2 separate regions of the Homo sapiens genome follow, and region 2 is linked to region 1. Evidence: fine-mapped expression QTL. Tissue or cell type: nasal epithelium. Region 1 holds a variant in brackets; the other region holds the start of a gene. All regions are shown on one strand. Distances are between the middles of the regions. Region 1 overlaps FBXO2 (F-box protein 2). Region 2 holds the start of DRAXIN (dorsal inhibitory axon guidance protein).

Region 1 (2,875 bases):
GACTGAGGATGCCCCCAGAGCAGGGGCTGCATCTCCACCACTGCACTGGAGGGCCCAGGACACTGGCTCCCCCTCCCCTTGGGTCCCACCCTTCATGTGGCCAGGCTGCTGATTCTTCCTGGGAAGGAGTCTCTTATTCCCCACCGTAACTTCAGGGCCCCCACACATGACCTGGCCTGGGGTTGGGGCTCTGGGAATTGTAAATAAATGAACTAGTGAATGAATAAACAATTGCAGGCAGGCCCCAGCTTGAACCCTGCAATCCCACCAGAACAGCAGGTAGCATCAGGGTTCAGAACCGAGGCAAAGCTGGAGACTCTCGGTGATTTTACTGGTCTCCATTTCAGGAGAGGAGGGCAGAGGGTTCCAGGCCCTTCAAATGCCCACCCCTAGGACCAGCAGCTGACAGTCTTTGGAAGGGGCTGGGTCGGCCGGAAGGAGCGTGCCGGAGCACAGAGTCTGGCACAAGACCCTCCCCACCTCCCCTCCCCCAGGCCAAAGCCTGGGCCAACCTCTGGGCCAGGTTTGGAAAAGGGCCAATGAGACCAGATGCTAATGACTCCAGGGGGTGGGCACGAACTAAGAGAAACCCCAAACCAATCCTTTTTGTGCTTCCCCATCCCCACCTCCCATCCCCTACCCCAGGCCCCTCACCTCCATCCCTGGGCCCAAGAGAACTGGTACCCTAGACCCTAGCACAGTCCACACCCACCCCAGTTGCCAATCAGACAAAGGAACTGACACCTTGCCCTAGGGGCCCAGCTTGATGAAGGGCTGTGGAGGTTTGGGGAAGGTGAGGACGCTATGGACTAAGTTAAGGCCTATCTACTCCCAGCCTCTACCCTTCCAAGCAGCTGGGGGAGGGTGGAAGCAGGGCCGCTCAGGGCTCTACCCACATGCTGCTATTGGTCACCCGGGCCCTGAGAACTGGTACACCCCCAACCCCACTCTGCCTTTAGTAAAGGATGGGGGGTCATAGCAAGGCTTAGGATACTCACTGGACCAAGAGAGGCCTGGAGGGCAGCCCCCCCGCCAACATGCCCTATTCTGGCCTCTGGGCAGCTTGGGTGTCGGTCAGGCGCCAGGCTCAGCTCAACCTTCCTTGGTCTCACAATCCCAGCTTTGTCCTCCCTGGCAAGGCCGGGCCCAGCTGACTCCATACTGGCCCAAGGTCCGCTGGAAACCAGAGCAGCTGGAGCCCTACCAAGTATTTTTCCAGGCTATGCCGGGGGCCCTCAGGAGACAGAAAAGGATGGGAAGGGAGCAGTGTTTATCCATTTTTTCATTCATTCCTTCCTTGGACAAATAATATTTATTGAGAGCCCACTTTGTGGCAAGCACTGTGCTAGGTGCAGGGAATCAGCAGTGGGTCCAGTCCAAGCTCACGCCCTCACGGATCTACATTCTAGAAGCCGGCTACCTAAGCAAACCTATGCCAACAAAACTTCTCTCTCCCTGCTCAGGGGCTGGGATCGGAGCAAGGGATGGGAGGAGGATGTGTGGCTTGGGGAAGGTGAGGACGCTATGGACTAAGTTAAGGCCTATCTACCCTCGACCTTTGCCCCTCCAGGCAGCTGGGGGAGAGTGGAGGCAGGGTCGCTCAGGGTTCTACCCACACGCTGCTGTTGGTCACCCGGGCCCCGAACCAGCCCTTCCAGTAGACGGAGTCCTGCCCCCCGTGCTCGAAGCGGACGAAGCGGACGCCCGGCCCGTAGTCGGTGAAGGTGTGGGAGATCTGGGGGTGGAGGTAACAAGAGTCAGCCTCGGAGGTCCTGAGGCCTCTCCTGCCGCCCCACCCCGGTACACCGACCGACCTGCAGCTCCCCCACTCGGTTTCTCCGCGGTATTCAGAACTCTCTCCACCACCCGGTGACTATCTCAGCCCAGCCCAGCCCAGCCCA[C/G]CCCAGCCCAGGAGCGCTGTGGGCGGGGTCTCCTCGAGCCACGCCCCTCATGTCCGTGCCCCACCCCTCCGCCCTGGGTCCCCCAGGCTCACCTCCATCCAGCCCCCGCCGTCACTGTCTTGGGGCACTGCCACCTGCCCGCTGCTGAACTCAGCCAGCACGTTCTCGTGCTCGGACAGTAGCTTAACGGTGAGCTCGTAGAGGCAACCAGCGTCGCTGCGGCCCGAGTACCTGCTCAGAGGGAGGGAGCGAGGTGGGGGGCGGGAGGTGGGGTGGGGGCATGGCCTCAGCCCTGCTGAACACGTCCTGGGGATGGGGATTTCCACAAAAGTCCTCCTGTGCGCCCAACATCCCTGTCAGCCAGCACTGCCAGTGTTCCCAGTTTACAGATAAGGGAAACGAGGCCAGCAAGAGAAAGTGACAGCCCACGAGCGAAACACGAGGACTACATTCCAAGTTGGCCAGACCCCAGCTTGGGGCCAAAGCCAGTCCACAGAGTGGCCTTTGGTTTGGACCGCAGACTGATTTTGAAATATATACATTACATATATACAAACATATATATGTGCATATATTTGCCAACATTTAAAACTCAGGAGGGGAGGTGGGTTTCCAGGTTCTCCTGCAAACACGGAAGTTGTCAACCTTTGCAGACCCGTGGCCCACGTGGCCTCAACCCCTGCAGTGGGGAGGCAGCACCCCCAGGCGGGGGGTTCCCCAGCTGGCTCTCCCCTCTGCCTTACCCCGCTCCTCCCAGCCCCATGCCACCCCAGGACCCTCTCACCAGTCCTTCACCACGATGGCCGGCTGAGTCGTGTCCAGCAGCTCCTCCCAGTAGCCCTCAGCCTGCAGGTCAATGACCTGTGCTTTGCGACACCACCTGGGAGAACTGGAGTTAGGACAGAGCGAACGCTCCCCCCTTCCCACCTCCTCCACCCCCTTCTCCTTACTCAAAGGAGGAGGCGAAGTACTTC
Region 2 (2,894 bases), 43 kb after region 1:
CAGTGTTCTCATCAATCCATCCTGGTGCCCACCAAGCTAATAATATCACGGTAACAATGGCAGCTAATTTTACAGGAGCATTTCCTATGGGCCAGACCTTAGAAACGTTATCTCCTTACACAGGGCACTGCATTCACGCCTAGAACACTGAAATTTAGGTATAATCATGAGCTCAGAGGTCAGGCGACTTGCTCGAGGTCATAGGGGACGGCATCAGAAGAGGAACACAGACATTTAGCCTGACGGCAGAACTGTGTTCTAAAACCTCAAAGTCATAATTTGCCACACGCTGGAGAAAGAAAACAGTCGAAATGGAAGCCACCTGGCGAGCTCAGGGCGCCAGGTGGGAGCGCTGCTTCCCACATATGGGAGTCCGGCCCCATCGCTCTTTGATCTTTGCAGCGTCCGTGGCCCCACCGACCCCGTCGTGAGTTATGGGAGGCACGGGACCCATAACCCAGCATTCTCAGACTCCCAGGGTCGTCAGGACACGGCGCCCCGCGCGGTGATGGATGAGCCGGCCCCAGCGCTGGCTTTGTCCGGGTTGGGCCGGTCTGAGAAGCTTCAGGCCGGCTTTGGACGGGGCGTGGCGAGAGCCGCGCCGCGTGTGAGTGTGTGTGTGTGTGTGTTTGTGTGTGTGTGTATTGGGGCGGTTGTCTTTCTCCCTTCCCTACCGGGAAAGAGGGCACAGGTGCGCCGTCAGCGCCCCAGGTGAGCTGGTAGCACTTTGAAGACCCTTTGTACCCCTACATCCAGGAGCGACCTCTCGGAGAACCCCGCCTGCCCACTCTGCGCACTTTCTGCGGCTACAAAGGCCCCGCCGTTCCCCGTCCCGCCTCCCCCGCCCTGGGCATTTCTTCCGTCCCTTTTGACAGTCTAGGCGGAATAATCCTTTTGTGGCCCCGGGCCCCTGCCCTGACAGACGCGGCCGCAGCTGAGCGCGCAGCCTCGCTCCATTGTTGGGGTCCACCGAGGACCGCCCGCCGCGGCCCTTTGTCGCCCGCCCTGCGCGGGGCCGCTCCAGAGGCGCCACAACTGCCGGAGCCCCTCCCGTCCCACGCGCCCTGGGCCGCGCCGAGGCGGCTCTTACGCACCGGGAGGAGTGGGCCTGCCTCGCCCGGTGCCCGCACGGCTGCTGGGCTGCGCCCGCCTTTGTCTGCCTCCTTTGTCTGCCCCGCGCCCTCGCGGCGGCGGCGCCTAGGCCTCTGGGGAGCTGGCCCAGAACTCAGAGCGCAGCTGGCGAGGGCGCGCTGGCCGGGTGCGCGCCGGGCCCGGCCCCGGGGCTGCCCCTCGGCTGGGGGCAGTCGAGCCCGCCACCCGCCGCCCCTCCTCTGTCCCCTCCCCGCGCTCCCGCCCCCTTCCCTCCTGCCCGCCCACTCCCCCTTCCTTCCAGTCCCGCTCAGCCCGGGCACATCCTCCGGCTGCCCGCGCACCTCTCCACGCCGGCCCCGTTCCGCGGCTCGCCCTCGGCTGCGCTCGGCTCCCGCGGGCGCTCGGCCCCGAGCCCCTCCTCCCCCTACCCGCCGGCCGGACAGGTAAGGCACGGCCTCGGCCCGCCCCTGGCTCCGCCCCTCCCGCCCCACCTGGCTGCGAGCCCGGACAAAGGTGGGCTACCTGGCGCGCCCAGGGGCGGGGTGCGCGGGGTCCCGAGGCTGGAAGTGAGGATGCTGCCTCCTTCCCAGCCCTCGGACCCGTCTATCCGCCAGTCCTTCCGCCGCCTCCTCTCCTCGCCGCGTCTGCCCACGGACCCTGGCTCTGCTCCCGGGCTCCCCATCCGTCCACCTACCGCTGGACGCCCACTTTTCCACGCTCTGACACTCGGCCTCGCGCGCGCCCTCGCCGCCCTCTGGGGTCCCGGCTCGCACCTACTCTCCTCGGCACTAGCCTTCTCTCTCCCTGACCCAGTCTCCCTTTGTCTCTCTGTCTCTGAGTCTCCGGGTGGTCTCTCAGGCAGGGGGCCCCAGTCCGCCACCGTTGGAAGAAGTCTTCGAAGACTCCCTGAGCCCCGGGCAGAGCTGGCGGGCGTGCCCTCCAGCCCCTTTCGAGGCCGCCCAGGAGGCTGGGGTGTGTGGCCGGGGTCGCTGAGTGCGCCCGGAACCAGCACCGCCGGTGGCCCCGCGCCGTCCCATCTGTGCCCAGGAAGGTACTCAGCCTGGCTCCCCCGACGGCGCTGGTCTTTCGCCTGTGGTCTCCCGCTCTGTCCCTCCTGCTCCCCACCGCCGGCTTTTGGCTTTTCTCCGTCCGCTCGTCAAGGGTCTCAGCCGCCTTCGGGGCCGGGGTATGAGATGAGAGAGGGCTGGGGTTTCCCGCCAAGTCTTTCTTGCTTTCCTCAGCTGGGTGCTCCCTGGGCCATCCTCTCCGCCCGGTGGTCTCCCCTGCCCTATATGCTCCCTCCACGCTGCCCACCTCCCAGCCCAGTGACACACTGGTGTCTGGAACCGGTTCAGTACTATGCATCTGGAGTCGGGTACACTGGGGCTCTGGGAGTGATCTCGGACAAAGGAATGCACCTCTCTGAGCCTCAGTGTTCCTGTCACAAAACAGGGATGGTGCTAGTCCCTACCTATAGGGATGTGTGTGGAAATTGTGGGGTGCCGCTTGGTGCTGGTTCACACACCCTGTGGAGGAAGGGAGGGGAGGGGAGGGGAGTCTACAGACCTGGGATGGGGTGGGGACAGGGGGCTCCACAGAAATGGATCTCAAAGTCAAGGCTTAGAGACACTTCAGAGTAACCCCACCACCACAGCCTCTTCCCCCATCACACTTCCTGTCACCTTCACCTCCTCGTGCCCATACAGGCGTCCACACCCTTGCAAGCACTCTTCTCTTTCTCTCTCTCCTCCTCTTTGCTTGTCCTAAAATCAGCTAAAACAATCAGGGCCAATGGGTCACTT

What was found. PIP is the estimated chance that this variant, and not a neighbour inherited with it, causes the effect. A credible set is the group of variants that fine-mapping cannot tell apart.
Region 2: it holds the start of DRAXIN, and the variant in region 1 is the best candidate, but not a certain one, in a credible set for the expression of DRAXIN in nasal epithelium (TOPMed, PIP 0.55).

What each region holds. Positions count from the first base shown.
Region 1 is chr1:11,647,094-11,649,968 of GRCh38, forward strand. FBXO2 (F-box protein 2) reads right to left here. Exons shown (of 6, transcript NM_012168.6): 3 at 2,852-2,875; 4 at 2,686-2,781; 5 at 1,994-2,132; 6 at 1,294-1,735. The coding sequence ends at 1,601. Among named protein-coding and RNA genes, the nearest start is that of FBXO2, 5.9 kb to the right of the region's middle. RefSeq lists an enhancer at 2,639-2,875. The variant C/G (reference allele first, on the strand shown) is at 1,902.
Region 2 is chr1:11,690,319-11,693,212 of GRCh38, forward strand. DRAXIN (dorsal inhibitory axon guidance protein) reads left to right here and starts at 1,392. Exons shown (of 7, transcript NM_198545.4): 1 at 1,392-1,535. It also overlaps a transcript of MAD2L2 not described here. RefSeq lists enhancers at 1-199, 200-707.